Linked DNA regions of Homo sapiens: region 2 is linked to region 1. Evidence: fine-mapped expression QTL. Tissue or cell type: aorta. Region 1 holds a variant in brackets; the other region holds the start of a gene. All regions are shown on one strand. Distances are between the middles of the regions.

The links. PIP is the estimated chance that this variant, and not a neighbour inherited with it, causes the effect.
Region 2: GPM6B starts here. The variant in region 1 is fine-mapped to the expression of GPM6B in aorta (GTEx, PIP 0.99).

What each region holds. Positions count from the first base shown.
Region 1 is chrX:13,787,585-13,795,770 of GRCh38, reverse strand. All of the region lies in intron 2 of GPM6B (glycoprotein M6B), which reads left to right. Among named protein-coding and RNA genes, the nearest start is that of GPM6B, 25 kb to the left of the region's middle. The variant T/C (reference allele first, on the strand shown) is at 5,049.
Region 2 is chrX:13,813,588-13,821,773 of GRCh38, reverse strand. It overlaps GPM6B (glycoprotein M6B), which reads left to right and starts at 4,681. Exons shown (of 8, transcript NM_001001995.3): 1 at 4,681-4,930. The coding sequence starts at 4,870.

The DNA.
Region 1 (8,186 bases):
CTCCATCTTAAAAAAAAAAAAAAAAAAAGAAAAGAAATTAGAACTGAGAAGTTTATTACTTAATAATAAACTTAGTCATTTAAAATAATAGCAAATCCATTATATGTCAACCTAAGTAATGTTTAGGAAAGATAACGATTTTCAAAAAGAAAATAATATTTTAGTGTGAGGAATAGGACTGTTTTACATTTTTGCAAATCTCTTTAATATCTGGCTTAACAGTAGACAGCTGGACTCTTACATCTGCCTCTGCATTCATTCAGAGGCATCTTGGGGTATCTTGCTTTGGTTGAAGTATATGAAGAAAACTCAAATTTCTCACAGGTATGTGCTTGGAGAATGGAGGAGTGTTTTAATGGCCTTTGCAGATAATTATGAAATTCTTCCTTGATACTACACCAAAATTCAGCAGCTAGTGGTTTCTTAAAGACTACTTGTAATGTGGAATCTGAAACCATATTGATGATATTTTTGTACTCTTTTCCACTAAAATTCATTGCTTGATCTTGCACTTTGATTGACTCTTATATTCAAGAATTATTTTCCCTTGGCTATTTGGAAAATATTGGTTCTCTGAGTTGTGCAGATCTTCCAGACGTTGACACATTTAATTAAACCATGTCAAAAAAATTTCATTGGTTAATGTCACCACCAATTTCATCAAGAAGTCTGGTAAGTATTTGGAAGCTGTCAGTCTCACTATGGCAGGTACAAGTTTTCCAAAATTGATTGGCAACAGATACTATCAGTTGTTTTCTTTGAAGTGACAAGCTGTTCATTTTTGGGAAAGTTTCTGCCAAATACTTAAGTCTAAAAAACTATATCTTGTCAGGCATTCTTTCAAGAAAGGGGGTGTTTGCCCCCAGAAAGGTACAAGTTTGGCTCATAACTCAGTTACATAAGAATGTTTCCTGCAGCCCACTGTCACACGCTGGTTTGTGGTAGAAGGGCTCTCTGCATCCTCTCACTCATTTCATTACACAAACTGTTCGAAAGGCACATACTCGGGGGTTGAGATTTAATCAAATTAATAATTTTTTATTGCATCGAGGACATTTGGAAGTGAAACTGGCTTTTTAATTTATTTTCTTGCGAGCGCGTGGTAGTGAGGAATGTGTTCCTGCTAAGTACACTATGGAGCCACTGCCCGATTCACGCTCAGGCATCAGCAGTTTTACTGTGCAAATGTCAAGCAGTGAAAAAAGTAAATAACATCTTGGTGCTATTATAAAAAGTTTTGGCTTCACAGTCCTCCTGCAAGGATCTTGAGGTCTGCCGGGGCTGCACAGACCGTCTTTGAGGGCCCACTCCTGGCTCAGAGTGAGACTGGTGGGCAGGCAGGATAGAATCTCTTGGGAGCTCAATGTCCTTTCCAGACCTGCCTGAACAGAATCTGCGTTTTAATGAAGTCCCGAGGAGATTTATACGCAGGTTAAAGTTTTCCTGTAGTCCCAGCTATTTGGGAGGCTGAGGCAGGAGGATGGCTTGAGCCCAGGAGGCAGAAGTTGCAGAGAGCTGAGATTGCACTGCTGCACTTGAACCTGGGTAACAGAGTGAGATTGTATCTGGGAAAAAAAAAAAAAAGAGAGAGAGAGAGAGAACCACTGCTCTTTAACAGAGGTCTGCAAAACTTTCCTTTAAAGGGCCACATAGTAAATACCTGTGGCAACAACTCAACCCTGCCTTTGTAGCTTGAAAGTAGCCATAGACCATATGTAAATGAATGAGCGTGGCTGTGTGCCAATACAACTTTATTTATAGACACAGAAATTTGAATTTTGTGTACCTTTCATGTGTCACAAAATAGGTTTTTTAATATATTCTAAGCGGTTAAAAAAGTAACCACTTGGAATCATGTCAAAATCATTCTGAGTTTGCAGGCCATGAGGAGAGCCAGATTTAGCTGGTGGGCCACAGTTTGCTGACCTGTGCTATATAACACTGAGTGCTCATTGAAGTTACCGGGGGAGCTTCAAAAAAACAAACCCCAACCCTCTAATTCCTGAGTCCCGTCCCCAATAAATTCTGATAAAATTGGTCTGGGGTGAAGCCAGGGCATCAGGATTTTCAGATGCTCCCCAGATTATTCCAATGTGTAGGAAAAATGGAGAACCTCTGCTCTATAATGTTTTCCAAGAAAGTTAGTTTTCTTTTAAGCATTTCTTTTTAAGATTTTAGAATTTGGCAGTGTCACCAAATGTCTGAGACCAGAATTATGTATTGTAACCTTAGAGCAGGGTTTCTCACTCTTGGCACTGTGAACCCAAAGCTATCTGAGATAGGTCTCAATCAATTTAGAAAGTTAATTTTAGCAAGCTTAAGAACCTGTGACACAGCCTCGGGAGATCCTAATAACATGTGCCTAAGGTGGACGGGGCACAGCTTACTTTTATACCTTTTAGGGAGACATGAGACATCAATCAATACCTGTGAGATGTACATTGGTTCAATCTGGAAAGGCAGGACAACTCAAAGGGGGTCAGAGGGTGGCTTGCAGGTTATAGGAAGATTTAAAAATTATGTAAAGACCTGGAATCCATAGAAAGGAATGTCTGGGTTATGATGATAAGGGGTTGTGGAGAGCAAAGTTTTATCCTGTAGGTGAAGCCTCCAGGTAGCAGGCTTCAGAGAGAATAGATTGTAAATGTCTCTTAGCAGATTTAAGGTCTGTTGATGTTAATGCTGGTTGGCTTTTCCTGAATTCCAGAAGGGAGGAGGGTATAATGAGGTATGTTTGACTCTCCCTTCCAATCATGGCCTGAACTAGTTTTTTCAGGCTAACTTTGGAATCCCCCTGGCAGAGACCAGGAATCTATTCAGATGGTTGGGGGTGGGGTGGGGGGTGCTTAGAATTTTTTTTTTTTTTTTTTTTTAAACGGAGTCTCGCTCTGTCGCCAGGCTGGAGTGCAGTGGCACAATCTCAGCTCACTGCCACCTCCAACTCCCTGGTTCAAGCGATTCTCCTGCCTCAGCCTCCCAAGTAGCTGGGATTACAGGCATGCGCCACCACACCCAGCTAATTTTTGTGTTTTTAGTAGAGACGGGGTTTCACCATGTTGGCTGGGATGGTGTCGATCTCCTGACCTCGTGATCTGCCTGCCCTGGTCTCCCAAAGTGCTGGGATTACAGGCGTGAGCCACCCCGCCCGGCCCAGAGTTTTATTTTTGGTTTATAGCACTATTGGCATTTTGGGTGTGACCATTCTTTATTTGGGGATGGGGGCTGTCCTGTGTATTCTAGGAGGTTTAGGAGCATCCCTGGCCTCTACCCACTAGATGCCAGTAGTGTCCCCCACCCTCAGTTGTAACAACCAAAACTGTCTCCAGACACCGCTAAATGTCCCTGGGTGGCAAAATTGCCTGGATTAGGAACCAGTGGTCTAAACGATGTAGATGTTTTTTGTGCTACTTCAGAGAATCTCCACATTGGAGCTATTGACATCTGGGGCTGGGTAATTCTTTGTTATAAGAGCATATTCTGTACACTGTGGGTGTTGAGCAGCATCCCTGGTCTCTACTCACTAGATGCCAGAAGCACCCTCTCCCCCAGCTTTGGCAACGAAAAATATCTCCAGATATTGCCAAATGTCCCCTGAGGGGCACAGTCACCCCCTGTTGAGAATTGCTTGGCCAGCTCAGAATCAGGGAAGCTTCTGTCCACTGACATTCACTGCTGCTTCTCTTAGGATTTTCGCCCTCTCCATTTTCCCATTGCTTGTTGCTTGAAAGTTGTAAAGCTTGGTTCCTGCATCTTTTCTTTTTAATTTTGTGGCTCATTAGGAATCAGTAATATAGCAAGGAAGGCCCCATGTAGAGAGGTAAGGGGGTGGTTTTTTTGTGTGGTGTTTGTTGGGGGGTGTTTGGGAGGGTGTGTGTGTGTGTGTATGTATGTGTGACATTCATTCCCTGGGGAAGAATCTGAGCCCTTGTTCCTGCCAGCCCTACGTCTGAGCCAGCATTAAATCTGCAGCCAAGATCACAGACAACTTGGGCAAATCACTTGGCCATTATGAACTCACAGCCATGGCAACGGCCATCCACAAGCCTGAGGACAAAAGGTGTTTTATTCTGTTGTTCTGCACAAAAGGTTCTAGGGATACTGGAGACAAAATAGCCTTTGAGACTTAAAGGCATTGATGTGTATTTTTTTTTTCCCTACTACATGGCTTATATTTAAACTGTCTTAGGCTAATGTACACTGTAATTTTTGTGTGAATCAAAACCTAAAATTCTTTTTATCCAGAGGCCAGCTAAATGAAGGCATAAGACAGCCCAACAGAGGCTTTTAGGGTTTGGTGAGAGGTATTGAGAATTACTAGTAAAATGTGCTAGAAAGCCTGGCATTCTAGCCTGGCCAACATGGCAAGACCCCGTCTGTACTAAAAATACAAAAAATTAGCTGGATGTGGTGGCATGTGCCTGTAATGCCAGCTACTAGGGAGGCTGAGGCATAAGACTCACTTGAACCCAGGAGGTTGAGGCTGCAGTGAGCGGAGATCACACCACTCACTCCAGCCTGGGCAATAGAGTGAGACTCTTTCTCAGGAAAGAAAGAAAAAAAAAAAACCTGGCATTGATTATTATTTTTTTACATGAATACATCACAGTCATCAAAAAAATGCTTTCCTTATTTTTTCTCGTTCACGTTACCCAATGTTGTCATTGCTGGTTTGAAGCTTGGGAAAATTCAGTCTGTGGATTTATAGGAGCATCCAAGAAAAGCACTGATCTTCCTTAGCTATCGTAAACTTTTAACAGCATGGTGTTCTGCTGGTACTTGGCACCACCCCTATATTTAAAAACATCAGCTTGCCTATGACTACTAAGGACAGCCTGAATCCCAGATCTACTTCCTTTTTGTGCACAGGCACTCCCAGCACTTTAGGGGGTGGTTGGAGTGTGTGTGTTTAGAAATCTGCTTTCTCAGGTGACTCAATTCCCGTCTTCTCAGACCCTGTCTATGGCATGACACTAAAGCATGAAAAATTCCAAGGTTAACAGTACTTGTTTGGCTCACAAAAATGCACTCTAGCTGCACTCTTTTCAAGA[T/C]GGCTGGACAACTTGGAACATTTTGTTTTTCTTAACTGTAGTCCTTGGAACTTGCCATTTGATTCACAAGTGACTGGAGGGTTATGGCCAAACCCAGTGGGCCACGTCTTAGAGAAAAAACATCACACACCATCGAATATGAAAGCAGGCACTTCAAACAGACTCAGGATGCCACACCTGAGACCGGGAAGATGCCACTGTTGACTAGAAATGGGCTTCTCAAATTTTCATGTGCACACAAATCACCCCAGAGGCCTTGTTAAAATGCAGATTCTGACTCAGTCTGGGGTCACTTCCAACATTCTTTATTTCTCACAAGTTCCTCCCTGCTGAAGCTGACACTGCTGGTCCAATGAACACACTTTGCAAAGCACATGGAATTGACAAATGACAAATGGTCCACTCATATCTTTTCTTGACCTCTGATAGTTTTCCTTGTTGCCCAGTAGAAGCTGCCAGCATCCAAGTTCAGCTCTTCTCAGCTACAGATCCATATATCCCTTCACATCATCCAGAGTGATCTTTCACAACCCCAATCTGTTTCCCATGCTTAAAAATGCTCCCTGGCAGACCAGGCATGGTGGCTCACACCTGTAATTGCAGCACTTTGGGAGGCCGAGGCGGGAGGATCACTTGAGCCCAAGAGTTTGAGAACAGCCTGGGTAACATAAGGAGACCCTGTCACTACAAAAAAATTAAAAAATAAAAAATGAGCTGGGTGCAGTGGCATGGGCCTGTGGTCCCAGCTACTTGGGAGGCTGAGGTGGGAGGATCGCTTGAGCCAGAGAGTTCAACACCGCAGTGAGCAGTGATTGTGCCACTGCACTCCAACCTAGGCAACAGAGCAAGACCCTGTTTCAAAAAACAAAACAAAACAAAAAAAAAACGCAGTGGCTTCCCATGATTTTGTTTTTTTTGTCTTTTTGTTTTTGTTTTTGTTTTTGTTTTGAGATGGAGTCTTGCTCTGTCACCCAGGCTGGAGTGCAGTGGTGCAATCTCGGCTCACTGCACCCTCCGCCTTCCGGGTTCACGCCATTCTCCTGCCTCAGCCTCCCGAGTAGCTGGGACTACAGGCGCCCACCACCACGCCCAGCTAATTTTTTGTATTTTTAGTAGAGACGGGGTTTCACCGTGTTAGCCAGGATGGTCTCGATCTCCTGACCTCGTGATCCGCCCGTCTTGGCCTCCCAAAGTGCTGGGATTACAGGCGTGAGCCACGGCGCCTGGTCAAGGCTTCCCATGATTTTGAAGATAAAGTCCAGAATTCTTAAGGTGGCCTGGAAAGCCCTAGGTGGTCTAGCTCCTATATTACCTATATCCTCTAGCTCCTAAATAAACACATTTAGCTTTTTCTTACTAACTTTTTGCAGCAGTTTTGGTTCCTCTAGGATGAGTGTGTGATATGTGACTAAATTGCCCAGTGTTCAAAGATATCATGCACACTGTGACCAGAGGTGGCTTCTATACTGACATAGAAGATACAGTGGAGAGTGATCCATTTATAGATTGTTGGATATCTACCACACATGCAATCTTAACCCTGAAGATAACTGGTCAACCAAGCTAGAATAAGCTCTACATCCAGCTGTATTATGTCCTATAAATTTTTCCCATATTTTATGTCACTAGCTTCTAGTCATGTTGGCTGGCACAGTCCGTAAGAGTTTTATCTGTGCCAGTGGAGCAAAGATGGTGATTTCTGTTCTATAGGAGCCAGGGTTCCTACAGCCACAAATAAAATCATCTGCTGAAAACCTAAGAGCATTGGCATCTGCTGAGAGAGCATGATTCATTGAAGTGATCCCCCAAATTCTTGAGTTCCTGGTTTTCCCTGCTGTTATAAAACTAGATCCACAGCATGAGGTATATACAGAGTCCTTGAGAGATATAAATTGGAGGGAAACTTTAGCTTTGATCTAGTATTGAATTTGGGATTGAACAGCATCATTCTTCTAACCCCACTTGGCTTTTTGAGCCTGGGAGAGCTGTGATATTTCTTTGGAATGCTCTAACCATTTGGATGAAAGACCGTTTGAAGTGGCAACTGTGGATTTGGAAGGATGAGTTCTATCGTTAAAGGGCGAGTGTGCTGCACCATAACACCTAACCCTAACTCCAAATGATGAAAAAGGGTGTGGGTTTAGTTTAAAAATATATATAGATGTATACATCTATATATACACACAGAGAATTAATGAACAATTTTATCTGGTTATATATCAGTGTCACCACATCAGCTGTTTAAGTATTCTGGATACTAGATCTTTCTGTAGAAGGACCCATCCAGTATGAATTATTTGCCCTTCTGATCTTCCCTGTCCCCCTTCTCTCCACTCTCTTTCCACTGGCTCTGCAGGGGTCTGTATCTTTGCCCCCATCATGCTGGACTATAATAATTGTGTTACTTGTCTGCCTGCAGTATTGGATTTATCTTGAAGCCAGAAAGGTATCTTATTTCAGTTTTGTGTACTTGGCACCCAGTAGGTCTTCACAAAATACTGAATTAATGAAATCCAACAGAAAACCCAGTTAGAACCCAGCTCCTGGGTTATAGAAAATCAAATATGTGACAATTCAAAATGTATCTTCCAAAGCAGTGTGTTCTGTGATGATGAAATGTCCTATATCTGTGTTGTCCAATACGGTAGCCACTAGTCCATGTGGCTTTTGAGCATATGAAATGTGGTTTGTGCAACAGAGGACCTGAAATTTTCATTTTATTTAATTTTAAATAAACGTAAATAGCTACATGTCTTAGTGGCTACCATTTTGGACCACACAGCCCCAAGGCCTCACATCTTTATCCTTTAAGAACCAGATACAACTTTGTTAGCCAGGAAAGCAGGCATTCATCTTTTTCTTAACATGATCATAGAGGCTGAGAATGTGGGGAGGTTGTGGATGATACAATACCCATGTCTGTTTTCTCTTTATAATGAGATACGTCAAGGCCAAGGATTCTAGTTTCTCTTAGTTTGGGAACCTGGAGAGAATTTGGACTTTGAGTTGCATTCCTCTCACCTCAGTCCCCAGAAAGTCATGTGACAAAATAAGATTGAGCTCTAACATCTCTGCTCACAAATCCCAAGTGTCTGAAGCTCTTTAAGATACTGACTTGCTAGTGAACTTGAACCATAT
Region 2 (8,186 bases), 26 kb before region 1:
AAAGTACAAAATTAGCCAGGGTGGTGGTGCATGCCTGTAATCCCAGCTACTTGGGAGGCTGAGGCAGGAGAATCACTTGAACCCGGGAGGCGGAGGTTGCAGTGAGCCGAGATCACGCCATTGCACTCCAGCCTAGGCAACAAGAGCAAAACTCCGTCTCAAAAAAGAAAAAGAAAAAAAAAGTGATTTGATTTCTGGCCTTTAATAAGTGCTTAATGAATCTTGGATGAATAAACGAATGAATGAACAAAGAAATGAAAGAATGAACCAGCCAACTGACCAGGACGATGTCCATAGAGGTCTACATGGGATTCCCTCACCTTGGTCTTGTTGTGTTCAACATTTCTATCAATGATTTGAATCCCAGACACACAAAGCATATTTACTATACTTGGAAACAGAACAAATCTGGGAAGATCATTAATGTAATAGATCACAGAAGAAAAATCCAATATGATCTTGCCAGGTTAAAAACAGGGCCAAGATGTACAGGCATCAGCCAAAGCCCTATGTATGAGTTTAACATGTCAACTGGACCTTGGGAGCCTCCTATTTTGAGGGTGATCGTGAAAGAGACTGGGAAGTGTTATATCCTTCCCCATCATTCAGCCTTCTCACAGAAGTTCCAAAGGCTATTTGGTGGTAAAACTCCTTTCTGCTTGCTAGTCCTCATCCTTTTTCCTCCTTTTATGGTATTTGACACTATTCTACACTGTTAACTTGATGCCCTTCACAGAACCTTTCTCGAATTTCATGATTCCACTTTGGTCTTATTTCCCTCGTTTTCTAATTTGTCCTTCTTTGTTTCTTTTACCCTCTTTTTAAAGTTTTTCCTTTACCTTTACATTTAAAAGGTAGTGTACCCTAAGCTCTAATCTTGGCATACTTGAAATCTGTATCTCTCCCTGGTTGTTTAACATTGATTTAAAATAGATTTTGTTGAGAACCCGCTATGTGCCCAGAAGTGTTCCAAGAGCTCTTAGAATACAGTGGAGAATAAGACAACAATTTCTGCCTTTAAGGAGCCTGTATTCTAGGAGGATGGGAAGTGATGAACAAATAAGTGAATAACAGTGTTGAGTCGTGGTTAAAGCTATGATGAAACTCAAATCCAGATTAAGGGGACCAGGAATGTCAGGGCTGCTATTTTAGACAAGAGTCAGGGAGAGTCCCCTGAGAAGATGGCATTTGAGCAGAACTGGGCTTCTTGTACTCCCAGGGCTGCCTCCACACTGAAGACTCCCGGATGCTGCTCTCTGGCCAGCTCCTCTCTTCTGGAGCCATATTCCTGAATGCCTCTTAGTCCCTGCAGGATGTCCTAAGAGCACCTTCAACCACGCTTGATAATCTCCCCTACCAAACTTCTTCCTTCTCTTTGGTTCCCCATATTGGTTCCCAGCATGACCATCTCCTCACTCACCCAAGCTAGAAACTCTAGCCTCCCCTTCAAATCCTCCTCCACCCCTACTCATACAGATCCAATCCAATGACATCTGGGTCCTCACTTCCTCCCCGTGCCATAGTTCAGGTTCACACTATCTCTTACTGGTACTGTTGCAGGAGACTCCTGACTAGTTTGCCAGCCTCTAGTCTCATACTCCACCCACCCTGTCTTCCACGTTACCAATAGAATGACCTTTGTAAAGCACGATCAGCTCTGCTCTTGAGCCTTCTATCTCTACCTACTGCCTCTAGGGCTAGCAAGGTGTTCAACCTACCTGGTTCCCAACCTACTGGCTCAGCCATCTCCCTTCAGTCCCTCTGTCAGAAAAATCACTTCCTGACCCTTTGACAGTACCCTCTTTTTCCTCTCATATGCCCTTCAGTTTTTCCTAGAACTCTTTCCGTTCCTCTTTCCTGCTTTTCCCTTCCCTACCCTACCCAGCAGGTTTCTAAGCATTACTGCAATAGCCAACTCAACTCTGCAAAGCTTTTTTCAAATTCTCTTCCCCCTCCATCCATTTTCTTTGTTGTGATGCCATAGTGCTTGTGGCAGGCAGGAGCACCCTGTTTTAGAAGAGTTTTCTGTGTCCCATTAGCCGTGGGTTACCTGGAGACAGGCATCGTCACTTGTGCATGTCTGTGCTGCTTGTAGATGTTGGCACTAGGGAGGTTACTTCATGCATGTTTACTGAGCTGGCTGCAATTATACAGAAGACTTACAAACATATAAGTCAAACCACGTGAAACTGCTGTTCTTCTTGGTCAATATCAGCAATTTCATATGTTTATTCTAATCTGTTTTGTTCAGTATTTTGTATTCCTGTTTTGGCTTTCAGAAGTGTTCTTACCTTCAACCAGACTGCCTTAGAGCATGGGGCTCAAAGAAATATTTTCAGCTCTGGAAGACATTTTCCATCCTACTTCTACATATAGAACTTTTCTGGCCAAAAATGGATGCATATCTCAGAAATGTAATAAGCAATACTCTTCTCTCTTCCTCTTGACAATTGTTTTTCAAATGGTTTATCATAAACATCAGTGAGATCTTGAGGCTGTTATAAAGTGATATAATGGTAATTTCTAGAATTGTAATACATTATCCTAGTGAAAAGAAAATGATGAAGTTGTGAATCAGGCAAAAGTGATGAATTGCTCATTTCCATGTAGTTTTTCAGGTGGAAAGTAGATGCAGGTATCAACTGGAGGATGTGTGAATATTTTGTCTAATGGTTTTGATCTCGATATAGAACTAGAGTTGTTCTTAAATTAAGAATGTCTTTCATATTCTGCCTTTTCACCAGCATCACTATTAAAATAATATTCTTAAGCAACAGCCAAAAAATTATTAGGATCTGCTGGTTCTATAATCAGATGTTTTTGCTGGACACTTTAAAAACCAATAACAGCTAATCACAGTGTCCTCTTTTGTGCTGAATTGAATTTTGTTTTGGTTTTAATTCTCATTTGAACTGCTGGGAAAGCAAGCCTGTTACATACCAACACTTGCCACCTTTCTATATTTGAATGGACCTAAGTAGTCTTTGCAAAAAATGTCTAAGACTGTCCTATCCGGACACACCATAGGGTTTTCCCATGGAAATAATTATATCACAAACGAATCTTTTTTCTAAAGTCTGTGGTTTTAGGCTGCCATACTTCTCAATCCCCTGACCAGGAGACAATAAAATTGGCTGGGGCCTTAATTTGAGGGAATACATATTTGATTGTGGGCGTGGTCTTCTAAGACAATGGTAAAGGGAAAAGCAAGATGTAAAATTAAACGTTGAAACAAGCTAAACTGGTTTTCAAAATCTTCTCGACTGTAACACATCTAGAAGTTCTAAATATAAGAAGGTTTGAGGGATTATCTAAAACCAAGGTATTAAAAGATCAGGTTTTTAGAAGATTTTGATTCAGTACCTTATACTTTTTTTTCAAGGAGTTGAGCAAGAAACCATCAAAACTTAGGAGAGTGATTTTAGGAGAGGGTGGTCTCCAACTTGTCTTTATGTTTGCTTCCAAGATAAGTGTTAAGCCCAACCAACTAGCAGACTATTCATGATCTGGGAATCCTATCAGTGGTCATCCCTGTATTTGACTTGAGTCTCTCTAATTTTTTATAGGGACGGCGAAGGCCAGTTGGTCAGCCAAATGCATAAAAAATGGTGCAGAAATTAGTGATGCTTGGAAACATGGCTCATAATCATGATAAAGGCTTATATGTTGGTATGGGTTGAGAATGTTGGCCTCATGGTATCTGGGTATGCAAGAAGGCAAATCATTATTGGTATACTAGCCTTTATGTTGAATATTTAGAGAGCTCTTGAAAACACCCCTTCGATTTGGAGTGAGGAATTCTAATGAGTAAAACTCCATGTAGAAATAACCATATCCGATTAAAAAACTATTTTGATTTTCATTCCAAGAAACTACCAAAATGTCAGCTCGATATACTTGTGAACATGTTATGCTTATTTTTAAATAAGGAAGGGTGCCTTTTTACAAATTAGGCTTGAGTTTCTCTTACTATCATATATATTAACTATAGACAAGGGAGTGGGTTCTAATAACAAATTGCTACATTGCTATCGTTAAATCCGTGTTTGAGTTTTCTTCCCTCTAATGTATTTTCTCCCCCTCTTTAATTTATATTTTTAAAAAGCAATGTACTTATCTAGAAATTGTATGAAAGACAAATATTTAAGAAAGTAAATAGAGACTATGGGCACGTCCTTTGAATATGTTTTGCCAGGGTCGAGGGGTAAATGAAATAAACTGATACATCATAAATGGACCACACAGGAAAGAAAGTGTCATGCCTATGCAAAGACATGCATTCTCCTTAGAGACGACATATATTGCTGTCGACCAACAAAGTCACGTGGTGGGAGGGGGCTCTTTTCTTTCTCCTTCACATCCCCTCCTCTGATGTCACAAATCTATTTTTTCCTGGGAGAATTAATTAGCATTCATTGGGTGTACTTGGCTAGAAGAAATGAGGTGGGGAGAAAGAGAGAGAGAGAGAGAGATCGAGATTGAGATCTTAAGAAAGAGAGCAAGGAGGAAGAGCCCGGTGGGGAGCAGGTCCTTCTCCCCCACCCCCCTACCCCCAACTCCCACTGGAGCCGCATTGAGACTGTAGGCACCACCGGGCGCCGAATGGCTGTTTTCTAACTGGGATCCTCGGTGACGTATGGCTGCCTGCCCCTTGGCAGCTGTCTTTATGGACCAGTAGGCAGAGCGAAATTGACGCTGACAAGACTTTTGCATCTTGGAAGGGACTGTAATCTACTGTAGTGAAGAACAGAGCCTCTCAATCAGACGGGTGTAAATAAGAGACGGAGGGGAGTCCAAAAGAAAAGGAAGAGGAGGAAAAACAAGTGTGTGTTGGGGGGAACAGGGGGAAAAGCATTTTTGGTGGATGGTATGAAGCCAGCCATGGAAACTGCAGCCGAGGAAAATACTGAACAAAGCCAAGAGAGAAAAGGTACCCAGCGCTCTGACAATAGCCTGTTTAAAGCTTTTCACTGGGGGGTGCTTAAAAAGGGTTAGCTGGGTTTTGTCTCTCTTTTAAAATGGCTCTGAGACAATCCCTATGGCATGGTCTTGCTTTCAGGGTTGATTTTTTTCCTGTGGGCTGATGTTAAGTTAATAGAGCAGCCTTTCTTCAATCCATTCCTGTTCCAAATCTTTCTACCGACGTGATATTTCATAGAGGGATGTCTATAGTTTGTCACCTTGGGCTGATGCATTGGGGAAACTGTCTTTTTTTATTAATATAATTAATCGTAACTTAGGTCTTGTGTCCTGCATGTTATATTCCAGGAACGTGGAATGTGTAGTTTTCTGCTAATGCTGAGGAGGAACTGGAGGGGCATGCATGTTAATTCTGCTTTGGTTCCGCTAATGCTGTAGTGATTTGGGCATTCTCTAATTTTCTTATTCTAATATGATTGCTCTTTCTTGTATCAGGCCCTGACTACGACATGTAATAATCATTTACAGTTGGAGCTTCAGAGAGGGGACATCAGCTCTGTCACCCAGTGCTGATGGAAAGGCAGGGCGGGGGATCTTCTGCTAATTATGACTTGGAGACTGGGGGGAAGAAAATTGATAAAGGTCCTATTTCTTAAAGAGAATCTTAGAACGTACCACAATTTTCATATACAGAATGGTTTTTTGGAGAATAAAGTGTTTTTGCAGTAAGAAAATGGCAGAAAGGAACTAAAATTAATCTCTTTTTTCTAAATAATGACTGATTTCAAGTTTGATGTCCCATAGAATCGGCTCAGCCACTGTTAGGTTAATGGATCTCACTGCATTGTAATTTTCCCTCACTCAAAGTCATAGACTGTCATAAATGCCCAAAAACATATTCTGTAACCGCAGTGGCTCTAATATAAAAAGCCATCATGCTAAGGTTATTTCTCACAGCCCTTGCGTCCACTGATAGTCACTAAAGAGTAATTCGCCAGTACGGGGACAAAACTTCGTTTTATTTATAAAGATACAGGCTGAACCATATGAAATTGCTGATAGTCAACCATTTTAAACCTACAAAAACGGCAATTACATGTACTTCAGCTTCACAGTATGCTGGGGTAAAGACTGCTTGTTTTTATATAAAATTTCTTTGGTACACAATAATATTTTATCCTAAACAGAGCAATTTTACTTTTTAAATTAATTTTTTTAGGTATCACACAATACACATAACATAAAATTTACCATTTTAAGTATACGATTCAGTGGCATTAAGTACATAGCACCTTAATTTTAAAATCGTTTGTTTAGTTCAATCCTCTTACCAAATCTACACCTCCCCACCAAAAACCCAGCCTGTATTTTCTTGTGTGTCTTTAAAAAAAAAAAATCTTCATCAATGACCAAATAGCTATAAGAGAAGCTCTTGGGAATATTTATCAAGATGAAGAAGTGAGATCAAAGTTTTTTCCATGATGACTAGAGACTAAGTTGATTGCATGTTGTCGGGGTATGATAATGTAATAGCATTGTCCCAAGGAAGCCTATCACGATTTTATCCTAAAATGATGATTTTACTTAGTACATACTTTTAATTTTTATTAATGTGGTATTCAACCATGGCAGATAAAACCGTTTTGGTCTTTGCAAAAAAATCCCTTTTTTAAATTTCTCTCTGAAAGGAAGCAAAGGTCATATAACCAATATAAAATCATTACTACACAACTGTGTATCTTATCACTTAGTCTTATGGACTGCTATTATTTTATGTCAATTAAATCTTATTTAATAACAGATCTACAGGTTGCTAGTACATCCCTGACAACCCGTATATGAAAAGTCATTAGTTGTGATTTTAGAGACAAAATTAGAAGCAAAAGATAATTTGTGAAGGAACTTTAAAAATTACCTAAATGTATAAACACTAGCTGCTTGTTAAATAATTCAAAAATATCACACTACCAGAAGCTAGTGTGACATGTATGGTACATGCTTGAATAAGAATACAAGCCAGGGGATTTGTTTTTCCTGATCTACAGCAAGAGGGGTTGTGATTGTTGTGTGACCCACCATAATTGTTGATCTGGAGGGTGGCTTATCTAATCTGCATTTAGATGAACAAGTTCATATGCTGGCTACACAAAATCAAAGCCCACACAAGACACTTTGTAGTTTCCCAATTTGCTCACCCATCATCATTAAGGTACACATAGGATAAAATGATAGCCACAAATGTTTCTGCGTGATTGTCACATCAGTATTCCTTCAGATTTAACTTTAAGTTTATTAAAAAATTATTTTTCCATTGAAATTAACATTTGAAAACTTGACATAATTATTTATAGAATGTGTTATATAATTCTTGAGCTGGTGGATCCGTTTTTTATGTTTTTCTTTTAAGCCTTTCAGCAAAGGATTTTATTCATTAAATTTAATCCTGTAAATTTTGTCACTTTACGCAGAGTTTTTTATGCACATATATATTTTTTTTCCTGTGTTTCTCCTTTCCCATCTGTTTTCAGTGGTTGGTGATGGAGTGATGCCTGTCTCTTAATTTGGGGCATTATTGCCCAATGGCTAATACCCAATAGCATGTGAATTAATATCTTTGGATAATTATTGCAGTGTCTATTAAGAACTAAGAATGTAAATTAAACTTAGCTTTATAAATTGACCTTGCTTTTCTAGTTGGGATCTTTCCTGGGAGTTTCAGCGGGACAACACAACCCAGCTATTGTGATTCACTAACTCCTACAAAGAGAGCTCTTTCTTTAAACTTAATCACAATGACTTTGTTTCTACTTTAGACAAAATTAATCCATGTCCTTAAAAAAGGAAAGCATTTGTGTTTTTTCAGTCTGATAGTTTTCATCACAGCATGCTACCAGATACCAAAATTCACAAGAGTATTTAGTAGATATTTAGGGATTTTTAAGGAAAACAAGCAGATTTTCTTAGATGGATGTAAGAAATGCCAAATTATTACAAATGATAGTTTTTAAATTAAAAGCATTAAAGTGTGAAGATTGAGTAAGCAGATTCACTGACATGGAATAAGCAGAGGAAATGAATAAGACAGAATCAAAAGAAATAGATCATGGAACCCAATAATAAAAAGATGGAGAGTCGGTTTCCATTGATTTCAGTGGAGTATTACTTGTTGTCATTTCATTTGTGAAAATAAATGCATCTGAAATTGCTGAGAGTGGATAATCACTGAGTAGAAAAACAATTGAATCATAACAACTTTGTATGCTCTA